2 linked regions of the Homo sapiens genome follow. The protein of the gene in region 1 purifies or fractionates together with the protein of each later gene. This does not show direct contact. Each region holds a gene or a part of one and is shown on either strand. Other genes may lie near its edges.

Evidence for each region.
Region 2: the proteins of DNAJC1 (region 1) and RMND1 purify together in Homo sapiens (affinity purification with mass spectrometry; 2 studies listed by BioGRID and IntAct, with this or other methods). This does not show direct contact.

What each region holds. Positions count from the first base shown.
Region 1 is NC_000010.11:21,993,277-22,001,401, reverse strand, and holds part of DNAJC1 (dnaJ homolog subfamily C member 1 precursor), read left to right. Parts: intron 1-8,125. UniProt on the Homo sapiens protein: May modulate protein synthesis.
Region 2 is NC_000006.12:151,420,852-151,428,976, reverse strand, and holds part of RMND1 (required for meiotic nuclear division protein 1 homolog), read left to right. Parts: intron 1-1,394; coding exon 1,395-1,495; intron 1,496-5,345; coding exon 5,346-5,452; intron 5,453-6,371; coding exon 6,372-6,436; intron 6,437-7,655; coding exon 7,656-7,732; intron 7,733-8,125. UniProt on the Homo sapiens protein: Required for mitochondrial translation, possibly by coordinating the assembly or maintenance of the mitochondrial ribosome.

The sequences.
Region 1 (8,125 bases):
ATTCTGTCCAAGCAGAGAAACTGAATGGAACAAGTTTTTTTCTTTACATTGAATCTTAACTTTGTTAGATGACTTTCAGGGACCAGAAATTTGGTGGAGACAAATGCAACCTGTCCAGGGTCTTTCATGTGTAGTTTTCAAGCCAGAGCCATTTGGTGACTAGCCAAACATGAGGGACCAGAACAAAGTAGGTAGGCTGCTGAAAGTGGTGACCTGGCTCTGTGCACTAATCTCTTCTTGTTCACGCAACAGAGATTTGTTTGGTGCCTATTGGATTTTAAGCATTGGGAGTTGACCTTTATATAAAACAAAACCCCTAAGCTTATAATTCAGTAGGGAGAAACAGACAGTAAACAGCCAAGTAAGTAAATATAAATGTTATATGGTCAGAGCAGGCCTCTGAGAGAAGTTAGGGAGTAAGCCATGTGGGTAATTGTTGTGTTGTAGGCCATTTGGGCTGCCATAGCAAAATGCCATGAACTGGACAGCTTTTCAACAGGAGAACTTGATTTCTCACAATTCTGGAGGCTGGGAAATCCAAGATTAAGGCACCGGCAGATTCTGTGTCTGGTGAGGGCCTTCTGGTCATAGATGGCACCTTCTTGCTGTGTCCTCACATGGTGGTACGGGCAGGGCAGCTCTCTGGGGCTTCTTTTATAAGGACACTAATCTCATCCATTAGGACTCCACCTTCGTGATATAATCACCTCACAGAGGCCCCACCTTGTATTACTGTCACAATGGGGATTAGATTTCAACATAAGAATTTCGAAGGACAAAAACATTCAGACCATAGCATGGTAGAAGGACATTCAAGGAAGAGCAGACAGTAAGCACAAAGGCCAGGAGGCAAGAGCTTGCTTAGCGTTTGAGGAATAGCAAGGCAGGCAGTGTGGCTGGAGCAGAGTGATCAAGGAAAACAGTAATGGGAGAACAGCAATAGGAGACAAGATCTGAGTCATAGGTGGTAAGGGAAGACCATGTAGGGCTTTGTAGGCCATTGTAAGGACTTCGGCTTTTACTTATAAGTAAGTTGGGGGAGGTGGTGTTTGAACAGAAAAGATACATGATTTGACTTGAATTTCAAAATGATCTCTTTAGTGTACTGAGTATAGTCTGTGAGGCATTAGTTACTTAGAGGGATAATTGTGGTATAGATTGGACCTGGGTGGTAGCAGTGGAGGTGGTGCAAAATGGTCAGATTCTGGATTGAATTTCAACATGGAGCAAACAGAATTTTACTGATGGCTTGAATGTGGTATGCGAGAGAAAAAGAGAAACTGAAGATAATTCTAAAGATTTTTGGCTTCAGTAACTGGAAGGATGCAATTGCCATTTGTTGAGATGGAGAAACCTGGACTAGGAGCCTGGTTTGGAGAACATCAGGAATTTGGTTTACGGACATGCTAAATTTGGGGTGTCTGTTAAACGTTGAAGTTGAGCTGGTATGTAGGCAATTGGTTATTCAGGTGTAGAGTTACAAGAAGAAAGTTTAGGGCTGTAGATAGGAATTTGGGAGTCCGAGGCACTTAGAGAGTAACTTGAAGCCACAAAACTGGATGAGTTCACCAAGGGAGTGAACGTAAAAGAGAAGAGAAGAGATCTGGGAGCTAATAAGCCTTGGGGATTCCAGACTTTAAGAGTCAAGGAGCCGGGTGTGGTGGCTCACGCCTGTAATCCCAGCACTTTGGGAGGCTGAGGCGGGTGGATCACGAGGTCAGGAGTTCAAGACCAGCCTGGCCAACATGGTAAAACCCCGTTTCTACTAAAAAGATAAAAATTAGCCAGGCGTGGTGGCAGGCGCCTGGAATCCCAGCTACTCGGGAGGCTGAGGTAGAGAACTGCTTGAACCCGGGAGGCGGAGGTTGCAGTGAGCCAAGATTGTGCCACTGCACTCCAGCCTGGGCGACAGAGCGAGACTCCGTCTCAAAAAAAAAAAAAAAAAAAAAAGAGTCAAGAAGATGGAGGGGAATCAACAAAGAAGATAGAGCAGGAACGACCAGTAAGGTAGGAGGCAAACCAATACAAGGTTCTCTTCAGTCAAGTGAAAAAAGTGTTTCAAAGACAAAGGGATCAGCTGGGTTAAATGATGATGATGATTCAAATAAGATGAGCTTTGAGACTTCACCGTTGGAATTAACCGTATGGCGGTCACAGGCTACCTCAGTAAGAACTGTTTTGGTGAAGTGGTGAGTTCAGTAGTCTGGGTAGATTGGGTTCAGGAGAGAATGAAAGGGAAGAATTGGAGACAATTAATATAGAACATTCTTTTGAGATATCCATATCCTAAACTAGAAGGCAGAGATGGTAGTGACTGTCTGTGGCATCTTCTTTATCCCCTTATCCACCAGGTATAAGATAACTCAGTTACTCTCTAAGCTCTATAATCTGAATAACAGATGACTTAGAACTTGGACCAGACCACCTTATGACCTTGGACAAGTTAGTTGCCTCATTTTTAGGACAGATGGTAGCTTTTTATTTTCTTCATAGTAAGGCACATAGTAAACACCTAAATATTTATTGAATCAAACATTATAAACATTGTAACTAAATGCAAACTGTAATTCCCCAAACAAGTAGTTGCTTGACAGTTTTTACTCAACAGATTTTACTTCTATGTAATCTTTCACAGCCTTCAGGCAGCAGAAGAATCTTCTTCCATGTATCCTTAGATTTCACGTCCATTCTAGAAGTCTAGAAAGGGGTTGCAGAAGTCTTTGTTGGGGGGTATATACAGATGATTTATTAGTCATTCATACCATGTTTAGAATGACTTTAATAATAGGGCACTCCAATTTGGATATTGCATCTTTTCAGAGGAGATGGGGGGAAGATGAGAGAGGAGTGTAGGAAAAAAGATGTGCTATTGAAAGATCTTTCGTTACCATCTTAAATTATAGGTTCCTGCACAGTATTTATATTTTGTGTAACAGCACCTGCTTCTCAGACACCTGTACTTCTTGTGGGGTCAGTGGCAATTCTGTATTTCTTTTTTTTTTTTTTTTTTTTGAGATGGAGTCTTGCTCTGTCGCCCAGGCTGGAGTGCAGTGGCGCGATCTTGGCTCATTGCAACCTCTGCCTCCTGGGTTCACGCGATTCTCCTGCCTCAGCCTCCCGAGTAGCTGGGATTACAGGCACCTGCCACCATGCCTGGCTAATTTTGTATTTTTAGTAGAGATGGGGTTTCGCCATGTTGGTCAGGCCGATCTTGCACTCCTGACCTCAGGTGATCCACCCACCTCGGCCTCCCAAAGTGTTGGGATTACAGGCGTGAACCACTGCGCCCAGCCTCTATATTTCTTTTAATTGTCTTTTGGGACCATGACTTTCCTTATCCTTTGTATACAGTAATTCTAGCCAACAGTAAACACTTCATATTCATTTAAAAAAATCTGTGAATTGAAATAATGACAAGCTAAATTATCTTAAATTTTGTAGTATTTACTTTATGCTGAAGTCAAGATTTGTCTTCATGGTGCCAGTCAGTCATTACAGACTTCTATTTATGTAGCTAGAAAATGTGCTTCATTCTCTTTCTCTCGTGTTTTATAACTAAATCCTTATATTCAAATGAATGCTGAAACTTGGTTAACAGAAGAAAAGCAGAAGAACAGGGATGTGCTTATAAAATATTTGGATTTTAATTTTTAGATAGGAATTAATAAACCTTTTAAGCTCATTCGGCCTGTATTTTCAAATGTACAGATTAGCTAGCCTGTTTAGAGGAGGGACAATTATTGCCCATTCATCCGTGCCCCATGGTTGGGAGGAACTTCCCTAAAAAAACACCACTGATCACTAGACCCATCTCTAACATCTTACCATGGCGGTGTGAGTTACCTTACTGGAGGGTGATTGCCTTTGCTCTGTTTTGCTTGATTAGGAAGAGCTGATCAGTCAGAAAGCTATGAGTAGTGGGAATCAGTCTCTTTGCACCTCTCTGCCCAGACCAGTAAGGCAATTATCCTAACCAGACTTACCCTTGAGCATACTGTCTCAAAGTCTAGAATGTAGAGGAGAGGGCACAAATTGCTAGCAAGCCCATTTGGCCATCACATTTAACCTGTATTCTTCAATAGCTGTATCAGTTATAAAGGTTCATCTCTTGTCTGCCCGACTCCTGTGTCCACTCAGTTTTTTGGATGGGAAAAACCAGTTAATGGGGCCTCCCTAAAGCCCATCACAGTCCTTTTTAGAAATGAAGATGATGATTTCATTCATGAATGATGGTGAATTTGTACTGTGATTATCAATTTTGTCCAGTGATTCTTGCAGTGGAATCCACTGAGCTTGTGGTGTTGAGTGTAGTTCAGTCTTTCTCTGTGGAGTCTATTCCTTTGTACATGTGTGTTGTGTAATAATAGCTTCCCCATTTTTATTGTAGAATCCAATTTTTTTTAATTTGGAGAAAGAGATACACAGAATCTAGAATGGTAGATAACCTTTCAGTCATTTATATTTCTGATGTAGGCATGCATAGCGTTAGAGCTGAATAAGTACTTGTTTAATTGTATACATCTTTGCATCAGATAGAATTATCATAAAATTAGTTTTCTTATGTACACACTCTTTTTGTGATATGTATAGTTTAGTGGAAGATGCCTGAGCCAATTTTATGGGATAAAGCAAGTCTATTGTGAAAATTTTGCCACATATAATCTAGAGCTGATGGAACAGAGACTTTCTTTTAGTTTTAAGTTTCCTTTTTCCTTTTATGCTATTCTCAGTTTTTTCTTTACACTAATTATGAGAACACTCTTAGAATATTGTATCTTTTGTTATTCATAGACAATAGCCTAAGTTGAACTGGGAAAGTGGAATGGCTTCTGCTATTACAATTATTCCTAGAAATATATTCTAAAACGTTATATGGGTTACCAGTTTACCTAGTGATTGGTTTAATGTGGTTAATTTCACAATCATATTTTGTTCAATGTTGAGAATAAAACAGAGGTTGAGGTTATTTGACTTGATTGCTGAGAGGAGAATTTATATGGCAGTTGTAAGTAATGCCAATAAAAGTTGTTTGATAAAATGCCTAGTGTCTGTAATAAACCTTTTCTCAGCTTTGTTATGCTCTCTCTCAGTGAACTGCTTATTCCATAAATGGTACTATGTGACTTTCAGAACTGTTTTCCACTGTGGGCATTATTGGGTCTGTTTAGACAGTAATGATACCAGTTAATTCCACCTAGTTGAAAACAATTCCAAAGCCTTTCTTACAGAGTTATACAAAAATAAAGGAAAGGAATTGCAGTGGAAAGAGAGATTTCTGATTGGATGAAGCAGGACCCTAGATCATTTTATAATGAAGTCACAGTCATATTTTCAAAAATCTTTATTTTCATCAAAACACTTAATTGTAAAAGATGGGCCCTATACTAATGAATGTAAAAATATGATTACATGTTTTAAATAACAGCATAGTATTTCATTTTAAGAACTGAATAGTTGATATTTGAGTATTACTTATATTTACTGAAATTTTTTGTCTAAGCGTGTCATAAGGACCTAATTAGAAATTTAATCTAGAATTTATGTTTCATTTCCCATCTTATGTAATACTAAATTAAGCAAGGTGAGGATTCATTCACCATATTTGATAAGTGTTTCTGATTACATCATCCAGCAACTGAAATCTCACATGTAACCAGGCATATTGCAAAAGCAAGGGCATGCCACGTTCTACATTTTTGTTAGAATATGTGTATAAAACAGTATACTTCATTATCAGATGGATGCCTGTTTTATTGCTACTGAGGCAGTAGGCATTAAGCTCTGTGCAGCTACACAGTTAACTAATATATTTGAGTTGCTTAATATTAAAGCTAATAATCTAAGATCAAGAATTAAAGGACATGCCATAGTATATGCAGCAGTGTTAAAATGGAGAAGAGCAACGTTAAGATGCCACTAAGAGCAAATACTAGAATTCTAAAATGACGTAATTTCCTTGGTTAAACACATTCTGGAATACATACAACTCCTGGTTATAGAAGGAAATAGAATTTTAAACTGTTACATGAAACTCAACTGTGGCCTGTATAGTGAGCAGTAGTCAAAATGAGTTATGACCAGAAAGAAAAAGATCATTGTTGCCATTTACTGGGAAAGTATGAATAGACCATGAAGAAATCTTAGGGTCCGTACACATGAGGAAGGTAGAAACTTCTTATTTCTAGTCAATACTTAAGGACTTTATTTATACCATTAAAACAGGTCAGGTTAAGGAATCTATTCCATGACCAACTGAATTTATACTTTAAAAAGAAACCTCTGACTTTTAGAAAATTTTTTTTAATTGCAAATCTTATTGGCAGTTATTTTCAATTACCACACTTTTCGTTAACAGATAAGATTACTATTTAGGTTCTTTTCTGACTTAAAGTGGTGCTTTGTATTGATAGTTGGTGATTAAGTTTGATTTGCGGAAGTTAACATGTATAAATATATATAATATATTAATATATAAGTATATATAATATAAATATATATAAAGTAGGAAGTCTGGAAATTGTGTTTTAATTATATCATACAATATTTCTTTATGGATCTTTTATATGTAGTAGGAAATAGACTTCTTGTGTGTTTTTTTGTTTGTTTGTTTTGAGACAGAGTCTCGCTTTGTCACCCAGGCTGGAGTGCAGTGGCGCGATCTCGGCTTACTGCAAGCTCTGCCTCCCGGATTCATGCCATTCTCCTGCCTCAGCCTCCCCAGTAGCTGGGACTACAGGCGCCCGCCACCATGCCTGTCTAATTTTTTTTTGTATTTTTAGTGGAGACGGGGTTTCACCGTGTTAGCCAGAATGGTCTTGATCTCCTGACCTCGTGATCCACCTGTCTCGGCCTCCCAAAGTGCTGGGATTACAGGTGTGAGCCACCGCGCCTGGCCAACTTCTTATGTTTAAAGCATTTTAGTTTAGACATTTGATAAAGTTCAAATGACAGCCATGTTGTGCAGTTCTATAGTAGTTTTACACAATCAATGAGTGACTTTTTATATCACACGTTTGGAAGTATATAAGATTTAACTTAAAGTAAATTAGATTGATTTTGCAAGTGTTTATTGTGGAAAGCTTCACAGTTTTTCAACATGCTGCTGTCTCTTAAAACATCACTGAAGCTTCTTGTTTTGAATTGCCTTCAAAGCTTGCTGCATATTCTTCACATTAGCCTCATTAGTAGTAAATCTTAAAGTTGGGTTTGATTTTTGGCTATAGCTAACAGTCATTTGGAGCTAAATTTGGTGACTAAATTAGGTTAGCAAGCTCGGATAAATACTTTGTATTGATAAAAAGATCTGAATATACATTTCATGTAATGCTGATAGACTGCCTTGAGGACTGTTCTCAAAGAAAAGTCCCAGAGAAGTTTTGAGTGATATTGACACAAAGTAATAAATCTGTAGCTTTACAAGGTAGTAGAAAGTATTAGAGCAAATGACTCTTGGACTACTTATTACTTCGTGGGTAGCAATTTTTTTAAAAAAAGTTTGCCCGCAGGATAAAAATGGGTAAAAAAAAAGTGATCTTAATTTTAGAGAAGTGGGAAAATATAGAGCTAGAAGAAAATATTTCAATTATCTGCCTGCTTTTAATATTAAAAACAAAGATCATGATAGTATTCATTATATATTTCTATAATAAAGCAAGTTAAAACCGAGTGGCAGAGGAATTAGAATAATGTTAGAGATAGAGGTAGTAGCTGAGAATACCACTGAGGAAGAAAGCAGGATACACATAGAAACGTATACAGAAAAAATGCATAAATACAAATATAAATGAAAATGGAGTAATATCTCCATCTTGTGGCCTTCTTTGGATATTGCTATTAAAAATGTTGAGGGGTTGTATTTTCACAACTGTAGGCATAAGTAAGAATAAAATATGAGACAGACGAAAACAAAATACGAGTCAGAGAGTTCTTGCAGTATTTTGCAGGGCCTTTTAAGACCGAGCTTCCCAATTGGTGTGCTGCAAGCATGCTGAGATAGTGATGCCCTGCCTTGAGCAGCCTTAACAGTTTCCTCCAGTGTGTCTTACAAATACAATTTTCTGTAACGTGCCATGGTATGAAAGAGGTTGGGAAAGCACTGCTAAGGCATGCAGTTCTGATGCTTTTC
Region 2 (8,125 bases), on another chromosome or scaffold:
AAGAAAATACAAGTTGGCTATTTGAAGTTGCAAAGATGTAAAAGGCTGATAAACCCCATTTCTTAAGAGTAGTTTCATAAATGTTGAGATTCTACATTTGGAAAAACTACTTTGGAGAGCAGGCTAGCAATATTATAAGTGTGGGCCAGGTGTGGTAACTCATACCTGTAATCGTATCACTTTGGGAGTCTGGGGTGGGAGGATCACTTAAGCTCAGGAGTTCCAGACCAGCCTGAACAACACAGTGAGATCCCATCTCTACAAAAAGTTTTTAGAAGTTAGCCAGGTGTGGTAGTGTGTACCTGTAGTCCCAGCTACTTGGGAGGCTAAGGCAGGGGGATCGCTCGAACCCAGGAGTTTGAGGCTGCAATGAGCTATGATTGCATCACTGCACTCCAGCCTGGGTGACAAGGTGAGACCCTGTCTGTTACATATATACATATTGTGTAAGTCCACATATCTTTTGATCTAGCAATTCCTAAAGAAGTATTCCCACAAAGCCATGAAGACCTTTGCACAAGTGTGGCACATCGCAACATTGTAATGGAGAGTAGAAAAAATTCCCCATGGAGGACACACCTAGGTTGGTTAAATAAATTGCAGTTCGTCTGTAAAGGAAAATAGTGTTGAAAATGTCATGTGCATAATATGATCCTATTTTACATAAAAAGCAGCATAAATATGTACATATATACACATAAAAAGTCTGGAAGGATATGCACCAAGTTTAATCATGGTTGCCTCTGGGGATTAGGATTTCAGTACAGAAGAGAGAAAGAGATGATCACCTCCCACACCTGTGTGGCTTAATTTTTTATTAGTATGTTGGGCTTTACTTTTTATTTTTTATTTATTTATTTTTTTGAGATAGGGTCTTGCTCTGTCACACCGGCTGACATTGGCTCACTGCAACCGCCACCTCCCAGGCTCAAGCCAGCCTCTCAGGTAGCTGGGACTACAGGTGTACATCACCACACCCAGATAATTTTTGTATTTTTTTGTAGAGACAGGATTTTGCCACGTTGCCCAGGCTGGTCTTGAACTTTTGAGCTCAAGGATCCACCCGCCTCTGCCTCCCAAAATGCTGGGATTATTAAAGAGATTTAAAGAATACAAATTATAATATTACTAGTGATTTTCCTTGGGTTGTGGGATAATGATAACCTTGATTTTCTTCTCCATTCTCATCTGTGTTTTCCAAATGTAAAAACAAATGAACATGTCATCCTGATTACTTTAATATCACAATGGATTTGATTTGCCTTTTCCTTAAAAACATGCAACAGAAATAATGCCTGTAAGTGTAATGAAGACTGTTATAAGCATTAAAATCATAACATACTTGAACTGAGGGAGTCAGTTATGATTTCAGATTAATCTTCCTTTTCTTCTAGATGAAGCATGTGATGAAAGTTCTAGAAAAACATGAAATTCAGCCCTATGAAATCGCACTGGTACACTGGGAAAATGAAGAACTTAACTACATAAAAATAGAGTAAGCAACTTTTCATCAAATTTATGAAAGGGGCACTTGGAATAAATTAGGTAAAGCAATAGAGGAGACAAATTATTATGCATATGGAAACTTTTTTTTTTTTTTTGAGACGGAGTCTCACTCTGTCGCCCAGGATGGAGTGCAGTGGCACAATCTCGGCTCACTGCAACCTCTGCCTCCCGGGTTCAAGCAATTCTCCTGCCTCAGCCTCCTGAGTAAGTGGGACTACAGGTGTGCACCACCACGCCCAGCTAATTTTTTGTATTTTTAGTAGAGACAGGGTTTCACCATGTTGGCCAGGATGGTCTGGATCTCGACCTGGTGATCCGCCCACCTCAGCCTCTCAAAGTGCTGGGATTACAGGCGTGAGCCACTGGACCTGGCCTGGAAACTTACTTTTAAGAAAAAAGTGGCCAGGCGTGGTAGCTCACACCTGTAATCCCAGCACTTTGGGAGGCTGAGGCAGGTGGATTACCTGAGGTCAGGAGTTCAGGACCAGCCTGGCCAACATGGTGAAACCCCATCTCTACTAAAAAATACAAAAATTAGCTGGTTATGGTGGCGGGTGCTTGTAATCCCAGCTACTCGGGAGGCTGAGACAGGAGAATTGCTTGAACCTGGGAGGCGGAGGTTGCAGTGAGCCGAGATCACGCCATTGCACTCCAGCCAGGGTGACAAGAGTGAAACTCCGTCTCAAAAAAAAAGAGGAAAAAGATTACTGGTACAAATACAAAGTCTAAACCATATAATAAATATTAGAAGATAAACATAATTTTTTGAACTTCTCAGGCTATCCACAAGTTAAAACAAGTCAGTAGTATAGCCCCAAAATGGAAATGTTAAGTTTCTAATCAGCCTAATCCAATAAAATAGTATGCATTTATCAAATGAACCTATCAAATTATTCCAGTAAATTTTTCTCTTAATCCAGTTTTTTCCTATTGATTTTGGGGGGTGGGGGTATGAAAAGGAAGTATAGTGAGGGGTCAATCTAAGAGACCCACTTGTAGAAGTGTGGGTGCTGGAAGAAGTGGGACCTGGTGTACCAGTTTCACTAAGATAAATGGGTAGGCAACAGACTAGCTGATTTTCCTGACTCAGCCAGAGGGAAAAAATGAAGAGATGTTAGGGCCGAGACAGAGGCAGTATGAACAAGATGGTAGTGTCTTTTTCCTCATGGAGTTACCTGTCTAGTGAAATATGAGTCTTTGCAGGTTCTTAAGAAAGGTAGTGTTAGCCAGATTTGGTGGCTCACACCTGTAATCTCAGCACTTTGGGAGGCCAGGGTGGGAGGATCAACTGAGTCAGGAGTTCAAGACAGCTTGGCCAACATGGCGAAACCCCATCTCTACTAAAAATACAAAAATTACCCGGGCATAGTGGCGAGTGTCTGTGATCCCAGCTACTTGGGAGGCGGAGGCGGAGGCAGAGAATTGCTTGAACCTGGGAGGCAGAGGTTGCCATGACCTGAGATCGCACCACTGCACTCCAGCCTGTGCAACAGAGTGAGACTCTGTCTCAAAAAAAAAAAAAAAGCGTTAAAAGCAGAGCTTTGGGAAGACTTGGAAGAGAGACAGAGACTAGCTATAGAAAGACCAGATGGGGATAAGAGCTGAGTAATCAGCGCTCACCACCAATAGGGCCAGTCACGGTTTTCTAAGTAAGTGCCTTCCATGTATTATTTCATTTAATCCTGGGGAAAACCCTATAATTGCAGCTAACTGGCTTTCCGATGAGATTTATTGAATCCTGTCTTGCCAAAGGGCACCTGACTGTGAGTCAGCCTGAGCCCAGTGGTGGCTGCAGTCAGAGGTAAGGATATAAACCTGAGAGAGACAGCAAATGAGCAGCCTGTAGTTTTATTATCTTTAGTAGTTACTCAGCCCTTGGCCTGCAGATACAGCTCCTGTGAATCCCCTTTCTGTGTTCTATTAGGTTTACATTAAAATGGCAAAAACCGCGATTACTTTTGCACCAACCAAATACTTCCATATCCAACTACTGCTAGACCCTTGTGTGTGTGTGTGTGTACGCTTATCCACACACACACACACACGTTACTGTACAGTCTGTGAGGAGTAAAATCCTCAGTGCTTAGGATCCCAGAGTCAGTTATTTTGTTTCGTCAGAAAGACTGTCCTGGCTGCCACCTACATGGTTATTATGTGAGTTCTGCCATGATTCCAGGGATCTGCTCAGCTCTGTGGCATGGGCCCAGTTTACTCATAAAGCATCTTGTGACCAAGCACAGTGGCTCATGCCTGTAATCCCAACACTTTGAGAGGCCAAGGCGGGCAGATCACTTGAGGTCAGGAGTTCAAGACCAGCCTGGCCAACATGGTGAAGCCCTGTCTGTACTACAAATATAAAAATTAGCTGGATGTGGTGGTGCACTCCTGTAATCCCAGCTACTCAGGAGGCTGAGGCAGGAGAATCGCTGGAACCCAGGAGGCGGAGGTTGCAGTGAGCGAAGATCACGCCACTACACTCCAGTCTGGGTGACAGAGCAAGACTCCGTCTCAAAAAAAAAGACCTCTTGTGACTGCTGTCTTTGCTTTCCTTCCTCCATCTGAGGCTGTCATAGCAGATGCCGCCCTCCATCAGGCCCCTTGTCCCCCTCCCTTTGGCCGTCACTTCTTGTCTGACATCTTTTGTGAAGGTTTACCCTGTCTTTTTTCCATTTGCTTGTGATGTTTATATTCACACATTCCGCTCTTCCCCTGTCCCCTGTCTAGGATTCTCCACAGTCACATACTCATTTTTCACAACTTCCTTGCCTCCCTCCCCAACCCCATCATGTCAGTGTGATTTTAGATTACACTCCATATATAGTTTTATATGCAGCATTTTTTCACATAGAAATTTACTGTGAACGTTCTCCTTTTTATTAACTATCCTTCCAAAACACACTTTTAAGTTTTTCTTGTGTGGAGTGACTATTACTGAGCCAACCCCTACTGAACATTTGGTTTATTTCCTAATTTTTTACTCTTAAACACTGACCTTTTTTTTTTTTTTGGAGACAGAGTCTTGCTCAGTCTCCCAGGCTGGAGTGCAGTGGCGTGATTTCGGCTTACTGCAAGCTCCGCCTCCCGGGTTCACTCCATTCTCCTGCCTCAGCCTCCCGAGTAGCTGGGACTACAGGCGCCCGCCACCACACCCGGCTAATTTTATTTTGTGTTTTGAGTAGAGACGGGGTTTCACCATGTTAGCCAGGATGGTCTCAATCTCCTGACCTCGTGATCCACCTGCCTCGGCCTCCCGGAGTGCTGGGGTTACAGGCGTGAGCCACCGTGCCCAGCCAACACTGACCATTTTTTTAAAAGTTTTCAGCTGGGCAAGGTGGCTCGCACCTGTAGTCGCACCACTTTGGGAGGCCGAGGTGGGTGGATCATTTGAGGTCAGGAATTCAAGACCAGCCTGGCCAACATGGTGAAACTCTATCTCTATTAAAAATACAAAAAAAATTAGCTGGGTGTGGTTACGCATGCCTGTAATCCCAGCTACTAGGGAGGCTGAGGCAGGAGAATCGCTTGAACCTAGGAGACTGAGGTTGCAGTGAGCTGAGATCGCACCACTGCACTCTAGCCTGGGCGGCAGAGTGAGACTGTCTCAAAAAAAAAAAAAAAAGTTTTCTTGTATACAAATTTTTCTTTGCATCTTAGATTATTTCCTTAGGATAAACTCCTAGAAAGGGAATTACCTGGACCAAAGGATATGAGAACATTTGTAACACTCTTGATACAAATTGTCAAAATGACCTCCAGAAAGATGATATGGTGTCTTTTTCAAAGGAAAAGTTAAAGTGCTTTTTAAGATTTAGAAGGTATTATCTTTTTGCTTTTCACAGGGGACAGTCAAAACTTCACAGGGGGGAAATCAAGTTAAATTCAGAGCTGGATTTAGATGATGCCATTCTAGAGAAGTTTGCTTTCTCCAATGCTCTATGCCTTTCTGGTAAGTTACTACTGCTTATGGGATAGGGTACTACAGTTGTCATTTCACTGAGGGAAGTTTAAATAGTCACGATTTTGGTATATTTTCAGAATACTCAACAAAGCCTTAGCATTCCTTTTCCTTTTTTTCCCTCCATCAGAAAAAATATCTAGTATAAAAGATAGTACTGTGCTGAAGTTACTCATTCCTTATTAATTGTATTAATAAAGCTTAACCTCTCCAAAAGTATTTTTTAGATGATGATTATATTAGCCTTTGTTTTTTTCTCTTCTCTCTATGCGATTGTTATTCTTAGATAGTCTCTAATCCAGACAGAGAAGCCCAGCCTTGTGTGACTGGGCACAGGTCCCAGTGTAGAAAAACATACTCTAGTGTTCCATAGGAATGGGACCCAGAGTCACAGTGGCTATAAGTTTGTTCTGAAAGATCCACATCCCGAATAAAACTATACAAGTTCTTTAAGAATTTCTTTTGCCAGCAGTCTACCTTAGGTGGCTGCTGCAGCGTCCTGTCCATCCCACTCTGAGGGGCTTCGGAGATTTCTGAGGTTTACTCTTAGTCCTGAGGAGTGAAGGGGAGGCCAGGAAAGTCTTAGTCGCGCCCTATCTGCAGAGCTACCCATGGTATCAAGGTGTACCCTACCCTCCTCAGTTTCCAAGATGTAATACTAGAAAATCAAGAGTTCTACTAAATGTAGCTTTGGTCTTCCAATAGGGCATGGAAAGCGATTCAGTTTCCTCTATCCACTTTAATTCTGTCCTTTATGATAATTAACTATTCTTAAATTATATTTTCAAGGTTTTAGTACTTTTTCTTAAACTATTACTGAAATAGTAGTGAAGATGCTGTGCAATTATGTATTTTATATACATGTGAATATGATGATAAAGAAATGTTCCATTATTAATTTTTTTCCCAGTAAAACTGGCAATTTGGGAAGCATCACTGGATAAATTTATTGAATCTATTCAGTCAATTCCTGAGGTAATTATATCAATTTTATGCTTATTCAAGGATTGATTTTTATATGTAAAAAATATGAATTTCCCAATATAACAATATATAGCTATCCATCAGTATCCATGGGAGATTTGTTCCAAGACCCCACTGGATACCAGAATCTACCAGTGTCCAAATCCCTGATATAAAATGGTATATATTTGCATATAACCTATGCATATCCTCATGTATACTTTCAACCATCTCTAGATTACCTAAAATACCTAATATAATGTAAATACTATGTAAATAGTTGTTATACTGTATTATTTAGGAAATAATAACAAGAAAAAACAGTTTGTACATGTTCGGTACAGATGCAACCATTCTTTTTTCTCAAAATACTGTCAATTTGCAGTTGGTTGAATCTGCAGTTGCAGAACTTATAGAGGGCCGATTGTTTAGGAGTACAACAACATTATTACAAACAATAAGAAAACTACAGTAAACTTAAGAACTCCCAGTTACATATAAAATGACAAATTAAGAAACTTCATATTGATTACTTTTTACTTTTTAAAACTTCAAATTGTTTCCTCTGTTGGTGCAGTATTTTTTTTTTAATATTAATATAATTGAAATGGGGTCTGGCCATGTTGCCCAGGCTGGTCTTGAACTCCTGGGCTCAAGCGATCCTCCTGCCTCGGCCTCCCAAAGTTCTAGCATTACAGGCCACGAGCCACCATGCCCGTCAGTTGCAGTATTTTTAATGTAACTGAATTAAAGAAAAAAGTGAAATGTTTCTCTCTGAGAATGGAAATTATGACCACTTTTCCTGATTTAAGAAAGTGTTTTGCTAAATTATGAGAAAAATAGTGGTATGAAAAATACATATAAAGTTATATTGAAATTTCAGTATACATTAAAAATCATCATATTGTAATTAACTGTGTCTTTATTGTGAAAGAGTAATCTAATTATACTTCGGAAAGGAGGCCCTGCTTTTCTACTAAGAGATTAGGAATGTATATATCATTGAAAATGCTGATGAGAAGGGAAATGAAAAAAGAGAATATACAATTTCTACCTAATAAAATTATGAAATTTCAAGGTGAGTTAAGACATTAATCTGGGAGACAGCCATCCTAAAAAATATTTACATAGGATCCAAATTATGCCACTTCAGATTTTGCCCTGTTGACCTAATGCTTATTAGAAAGAGAGATACATGGTTTTTTGGTTTTTCCGATTCCCTCTCAACTAGGCTTTAAAAGCTGGGAAGAAAGTGAAACTATCTCATGAAGAAGTTATGCAGAAAATCGGTGAACTCTTTGCTCTAAGGTAAAAGTTTTCTCTCTAAATAAAATATTTCATATATTTAACAATCTCAAGAAAACATTCCCATAGTTCTGTGGTGAAGAGCAAACATTTACACGTTTATGGGAACTGTAGCTGTTTTCATTTCATTGATTATAAGCAGGGAGAACTCTTACCCATTAGAAGTAGTTGGGCTGTGTTAAGACTGTACTGAAAGAAATCACGCATGTGCAAAAGAGATCACGATTCATCTACATTAAACCCACATTAAGGAGCACAGTAGGTGTTCTTTGAAGGTAGAAAGACATATTCCTGAATTTGGTTAATGGGAATTCTCTGTAAAAATATATCACTGCATCATAATGCTAAATAGGCTTAATTGCTACAGAAAAGTTTCTTTGAATCTGAGACACCAAG